Homo sapiens: one gene and its partner. The protein of the gene in region 1 interacts with the protein of each later gene in a pairwise test. Each region holds a gene or a part of one and is shown in the gene's direction. Other genes may lie near its edges.

What was found. The genes of interacting proteins can lie anywhere in the genome.
Region 2: the proteins of MAP2K1 (region 1) and WNK1 interact in a two-hybrid assay, tested with the Homo sapiens proteins (one large-scale study listed by BioGRID and IntAct).

What each region holds. Positions count from the first base shown.
Region 1 is NC_000015.10:66,480,912-66,484,411, forward strand, and holds part of MAP2K1 (dual specificity mitogen-activated protein kinase kinase 1), read left to right. Parts: intron 1-843; coding exon 844-968; intron 969-3,500. UniProt on the Homo sapiens protein: Dual specificity protein kinase which acts as an essential component of the MAP kinase signal transduction pathway.
Region 2 is NC_000012.12:895,556-899,247, forward strand, and holds part of WNK1 (serine/threonine-protein kinase WNK1), read left to right. Parts: intron 1-515; coding exon 516-1,177; intron 1,178-1,923; coding exon 1,924-2,126; intron 2,127-3,692. UniProt on the Homo sapiens protein: Serine/threonine-protein kinase component of the WNK1-SPAK/OSR1 kinase cascade, which acts as a key regulator of blood pressure and regulatory volume increase by promoting ion influx.

The sequences.
Region 1 (3,500 bases):
TTACAGGACAGTTGTATGAATCAGAGGATACAGCGGAAGAAAAAATGTTTGGAAATTTAGGTCTCTGCAAACTAAGGGCCAATGTACTGGTATTTGTGACAGTGACCGGATGGGTGGGATGGGGTGATAATAAGAGTGCAAGGAAGGGGGATGGGGGCATCGTTTTGACTCTGAGGAGCAGCTTTAAGGCCTCTCACATTCCAGCTCCAGGTAGCAAGGGGTTCCCCTTGACTGGCAGGGTAGATGTACCTGTGTAGGCTGTTAGGTGAGTGACTCCAGTGGAATGGAATGGAATCATGACTCAGCTCCCACCCTGCCACACATATTTGTAAGAAAAAGACCCACATGCTCCATGCCTGGTGCAGAAGTCTAGAATGGGAATTCCCGCCAAACCCTGTCCCCTTCTAGCCTGTGTAGCCTCAGCAAGCAGATAGGTCTTATTACTTGTTTTTTTCTGCCTCCTTCATGATCCAGCCATAGATACTATATCTTACCAGTAGGGGTGGTTGAAGCAACAGACTTTGAAATCCTGACTGTTCATGATAACGGACTCCTTCCTGTGGATCATCTGGCCAAGTCTGCATTCTTAGAGAGTGGAAATCGACTGTCTTTCTGTTCTACTTCTACAGCAGCTGCTCATTTCATCTCCTGACAGTTGCTTCTTGAACTCAGAACAAAGGGCCTTGGTGTACAGTGTTTGCAAGCCAAGGGCTGCCTCTGATGGCGGACGGGGGTGTGGTCCTGGGACTCGTGGTCAGGGCTGGTCTGTGTGGAATGCTGATCCTTCTCTTCCCCAATCTACCTGTGTCAGTTCCCTCCTTTTCTATTTTCTCTTCCCTGCAGATGTCAAGCCCTCCAACATCCTAGTCAACTCCCGTGGGGAGATCAAGCTCTGTGACTTTGGGGTCAGCGGGCAGCTCATCGACTCCATGGCCAACTCCTTCGTGGGCACAAGGTCCTACATGTCGGTATGAACAGAAGTTTCCATTGCTTGAGCTTCTTGTACGGTCAGGGAGAGGAGCCCAGTGGGTGCCTTTCCTGTGGAGCCAGAGTCTTGTGCTGGGTAGGGGACAAGAAGTGAGGGAGGAGGCACAGTGCTCTGCCCTGAGGAGATGAAGTTGAATGGGAAGATGGTCTTGGTCTTTCTTAGGCCTTGGAGCATAACTGGGATATTGGGGCCTTGACTCACTGAAAGGACTGTCCAGCTCCAGAGTGTGGCTTTCTTTCTGAAGGATTGTGAGCTCCAGCTCCCCTCTGGGCATCTCTACATGATAGTCTTCAGATCCACAAACCCAGGATGCTCAGATATAATCCACCCCAAACTACCTCACCTTCTCCTTTTCTCTTAGCAGTAAATAGACAGCATCATCTCCCTGGTTTCCCAAGGTAGAAACCTGAGCATTGGCTCTTAACCTGCCTTCTCAGCAGCCCGTCCTTTCAGTATCTTGTAGCTCCCAACTCCTGAGAGTCTGTTCAGAATTGTCCAGCCTCTTTTCTCCCTCCTCACTATGTCTGTCAGACATGTACCCCTCCTTCTAACTGCAGCATACCTGGACCCCTCGCCAGAGTCTCTGCTCCACTTCAGCCAACACCCTGTGTTGAGGGTATTTCCTCCTGCTCCTGGCTCTGCTGGCTCACACTGTCACCAGAGCATTGTGTGGGGCCATCCTCACACTATGGCAGCACCAGCGTGTTTTCTTCCCTCCTCCATACCACCGGTTCCTTGGGGACAGGGACAAGGTGTCTCTCTTGTCCCTAGTGCCTGGCATGGGGCCTGGCATGTGGTAGGTGTTCAGGGAATGCTTGGCAAGTGGGTAGATGTTTAGTTGGCTGAGTGGGAGGGTACATGGATAAAACATTTCTGAGAATGATTTGGAAAGGTGGAAACGTGAGTCTGGGCCAGTGCTGAAGTGCGGCAAAGTGGAGGAGCGTTGGAGTGAGTAGGCAGTCTTTACAGAAGTGGCGGGGAGTGCAGGCCCGCGTGGAGAGGGGGACAGGCGCAGAGGCTCAGATCTTAACTTGTACAAAGCATTTTATGTGTTCTCTGTCAAAGCACATGTCATGTCCCTGGAAGGTCTCATTTGATCCATGTGGTTGTCCCAGGAAATAAAGATTATTGTTCCCATTTTAGAGGTGAGGAAGTCTAGATTCAGGGAGGTTAAGCAACCTGCCTACTTAACCTTGCTGAGCCAGGATTGAAAGCTAGCTGCCCCCTTGCCAGGCAGACGCCCTTTGCACAGCACACCCTCATTTGCCTCTTGGGGAGGATTTGGCACCTGTGCCCAGATCCCAGTGTGAACACATCCTCATTCCTTCTTGCTGGCACCTACCCCCCACTGTGACTCCAGCCACTGTCAACATCACTCACCTGGCACTGACCCACATCCCCACCCCTCCCCTCCAGTGACCCACAGTGGAACTCTCTTTCTCTGTCATCTCCTCATTGCTTCTTCCCTAAATGTCTAATAACTGAGCAGCTGGCATCCTGGGCCATTTGACTGCCAACTCTCAAGTTCAAAATCCATTAACAGGCCCTGGGAGTTACTAATCAAGGGTTTAATGGTTGGGGTTTTTGTGGTTATATGGTCAGTTACGAAATAGTCCAGTGTTGGAGTTAGTGAAAAATGCTACTGGAGAAGTTAATGTCTACGTGAATATACTATGGGCAGAATAAAGATTTTTTCGGTAGGGTTCTTGAAATACATGTGCTATTTCAAATAATGCTCATTAAAAATAATGCTTTTGTATAGCACTGTATACTTTTTTTCTCTTTGGCTTTTCCCACCAATATCAACCAATATTTGTATTGCATTTTACAACATTTGACATACATTTTCTTTTTTTTTTTTTTTTTGAGACGGAGTCTCACTGTGTCACCCAGGCTGGAGTGCAGTGGTGCAATCTCGGCTTACTGCAAGCCCTGCCTCCCAGGTTCACTCCATTCTCCTGCCTCATCCTCCCGAGTAGCTGGAACTACAGGCGTGTGCCACCACGCCCGGCTAATTTTTTTGTATTTTTAGTAGAGACGGGGTTTCACCGTGTTAGCCAGGATGGTCTCGATCTCCTGACCTTGTGATCCACCCACCTCGGCCTCCCAAAGTGCTGGGGTTACAGGCATGAGCCACCGCGCCTGGCTGTACATTTTCATTTGATTTGATCTTCTTAGTAATCCTAAGTAGAGTTTTCTTATATCATTGTTACTGTCATTTTCATCATCATCAGCCACCACCCCCCCCCACCTTTTTTTCTTCCGACATGGAGTTTTCGCTCTTCTTGCCCAGGCTGGAGTGCAGTGGTGCGATCTTGGCTCACTGCAACCTCTGCCTCCCGGGTTCAAGTGATTCTCCTGCCTCAGCCTCCCAAGTAGCTGGGATTACAGGCATGCACCACCATGTCCAGCTAATTTTTGTATTTTTAGTAGAGATGGGGTTTCACTATGTTGGCCAGGCTGGTCTCGAACTCCTGATCTCATGTGATCCGCCTGCCTCAGCCTCCCAAAG
Region 2 (3,692 bases), on another chromosome or scaffold:
TTAAGTGATTCTCCTGCCTCAGCCTCCCAAGTAGCTGGGATTACAGGCACACGCTACCATGCCTGGCTAATTTTTGTATTTTTAGTAGAGACAGGGTTTCACCACGTTGGCCAGGCTGATCTGAAACTCCTGACCTCAAGTGATCCACCTGCTTCAGCCTCCCAAAATGGTGGGCTTACAGGCATGAGCCACTATGCCTGGCCCTGACCTTTTGTTATGTATATGTTGACTAAGACATAAATCTGAATTCTGTGTATGACATCAAATACGAAAGTAAATTATTTACTTTATAAGCGTAGCCAGCCACACAGAATCTGCATCTCAGTACCCATGTGTTCTCTATGATGGTATTCAATTTTTCTTCCTAGTCAAAAGTGGAGGCGCTATGTAAAGAGACAATCAGCCTACTCTTTGACAGGGAAATAAAGTGATTCTTTTTTTCCTTTTTTAAATTGTCTGTGATAGAAATTGGATATTGAGAACTTAAGTTTTTAATCTTTGTCCTTTTTTATCAGGTTTCTGTTGCAGCAGACGGTGCCCAGAAAGAGGGTAAAAATAAGTCAGAAGATGCAAAGTCTGTTCATTTTGAATCCAGCACCTCAGAGTCCTCAGTGCTATCAAGTAGTAGTCCAGAGAGTACCTTGGTGAAACCAGAGCCGAATGGCATAACCATCCCTGGTATCTCTTCAGATGTGCCAGAGAGTGCCCACAAAACTACTGCCTCAGAGGCAAAGTCAGACACTGGGCAGCCTACCAAGGTTGGACGTTTTCAGGTGACAACTACAGCAAACAAAGTGGGTCGTTTCTCTGTATCAAAAACTGAGGACAAGATCACTGACACAAAGAAAGAAGGACCAGTGGCATCTCCTCCTTTTATGGATTTGGAACAAGCTGTTCTTCCTGCTGTGATACCAAAGAAAGAGAAGCCTGAACTGTCAGAGCCTTCACATCTAAATGGGCCGTCTTCTGACCCGGAGGCCGCTTTTTTAAGTAGGGATGTGGATGATGGTTCCGGTAGTCCACACTCGCCCCATCAGCTGAGCTCAAAGAGCCTTCCTAGCCAGAATCTAAGTCAAAGCCTTAGTAATTCATTTAACTCCTCTTACATGAGTAGCGACAATGAGTCAGATATCGAAGATGAAGACTTAAAGTTAGAGCTGCGACGACTACGAGATAAGTAAGTATATTTTCTCTTGTGAAAGAATGTCAGATAAGGTTTTCAGACCTAGATCCCAGGGCCAAGATTAATAATATTTTTCGCCACAATATGCTAATGTCTCATTTCTTTTAAAGAGACAGTGCCACAGAAGCCCCACCCCATACCTCCCCACCACACACACACACACACACACACACACACACACACACACACACACACACACACGATTCCCAACCACTGACTCACAGGCACAGGCAGCTTCTCTTGCACTCATACAGACCCATAGCATTTCTAGTTCTAGAACTTCTTCATTGTTACTATATTATTACTGTATTATTGTTACTGTATTGTATTATTATTTTTATTAATAGCATATTGTATCACTATTAACTGCTCTTTATTTATTAGTCCACTAAATGAATCTGGCACTGGGATGTATGATTATTTGGCACGTTTTGTTTGGCAGATTGGGTCAGAGTAGCAAATTCAGCTATTGTGTGCGTGGCCTCAAAAGTCAGGAAATGTTTTTCTCCTAAAACATTATCAACCATTTGTTGTTGGCTAGGAGCTTGTTGGAACATGGCTTGGGTAATGCAGGCCAGCAAGGTGAGTTGACAAACTAGAATCTCGTGGTAGTACATTTGGGGAAAAGGTTCATTAGTAACTACTACATACTTGAAAGCAGGTTTAGGAATATGCTGTTAATTCTTGTCTGAATGAAGAGGATTATGGTATTTTGAATTATGTTTGGTTATCTTTCACAGACATCTCAAAGAGATTCAGGACCTGCAGAGTCGCCAGAAGCATGAAATTGAATCTTTGTATACCAAACTGGGCAAGGTGCCCCCTGCTGTTATTATTCCCCCAGCTGCTCCCCTTTCAGGGAGAAGACGACGACCCACTAAAAGCAAAGGCAGCAAATCTAGTCGAAGCAGTTCCTTGGGGAATAAAAGCCCCCAGCTTTCAGGTAAAAAGCCCTGGACTAGGTCAGCCACAGCTGTCCTATCTTTTGTTTCTGTCTCCAGCTGTATGTGACCTGCTGAACATTTGTTGTTTTTGTTAAATTTCAAAGGAATTTGGCTCTCCTGATATTTTTGCTTCCTTGACTGCTGTACTTACATTTATTGTACCTCTTTTTGAGTCTATAGAAGTAGACTTAGTGAATACAATGGCTTATTCCATTGTAATCCATATTGCTATCTACTGGTAATCTTTATTTATAGTTATTCTTAAGGATAGACATTTAGCTTTGCCTGTTAACTCGTATAACTCACATTTAACCAAACTCTTGGGCAGTTGGAAGAAAATACATTATTCTCTGTTTAGTAAAACTTGGGTAGATTCTTTGTTTTAATGGATGACTTAGTCATAATTGCAACTTAGATGAATGTAATCGTCATATAGATATTTGTGTGTATGTCTAAGTGGTAACTTCTTGATTAAGGTTTTTATTTCATTTATATTGGGTTAAAGAACTTGCTAGTCATTGGTTAGGCACGGTGGCTCACGCCTGTAATCCCAGAACTTTGGGAGGCTGAGGCAGGCAGATCACGAGGTCAGGAGATCAAGACCATCCTGACTAACACGGTGAAACCCTGTCTCTACTAAAAATAAAAAAATTAGGTGGGCATGGTGGCAGGCGCCTATAGTCCCAGCTACTCAGGAGGCTGAGGCAGGAGAATGGCATGAGCCCGGGAGGCGGAGCTTGCAGTGAGCTGAGATTGCACCACTGCACTCCAGCCTCGGTGACAGAGCAAGACTCTGTCTCAAAAAAAAAAAAAAAAAGAAGAACTTGCTAGTCATTAAAATCAAAGAAATAGTTAAGTGATACTCTTTTGTAATGTAGTATATATATATATTTATTTATTTTAAGAGACAGGGCCTCACTCTGTTGCCCAGACTGGAGTGCAGTGGTGTGATCATAGCACACAACACAACAGCCTCAAACTCCTAGGCTCAGGTGGTCCTCCTACCTTAGCTTCCTGGGTAGCTGGGATTACAGGCACACACTACCATGCCCTGCTAACTTTGAATTTTTTTTTTGAGACAGAATCCCGCTCTGTTGCCCAGGCTGGAGTGCAGTGGCACGATCTCGGCTCACTGCATTCTCCGCCTCCCAGTTTCAAGTGATCCTCCTGCCTCAGCCCCGCATAGTAGCTGGGATTACAGGCACATGTCACCATGCCTGGCTAATTTTTGTATTTTTAGTAGAGATGGGGTTTCACTATGTTGGCCAGGCTGGTCTCAAACTCCTGGCTCAGGTGATCCACCCACCTTGGCCTCCCAAAGTGCTGGGATTACAGGCGTGAGCCACCGTGCCCGGCCCTGGACTATATTTTAATTGGGATAGATAGAGAGTTTCTAATCCTTTGGTGAAATTATGGTAGTGTTAACACAATTAGTTGAAAAGTAAAAGAAGGTTAAAATATGTTAAAAAGCAGTTGCAAACTTCTTAGCAGTTCCATTCTCTGGAAAGGTTCACAGATATCCAAATGTAGCACATTAGGGCCAGTTCATGCAGCCCATTAGTAGA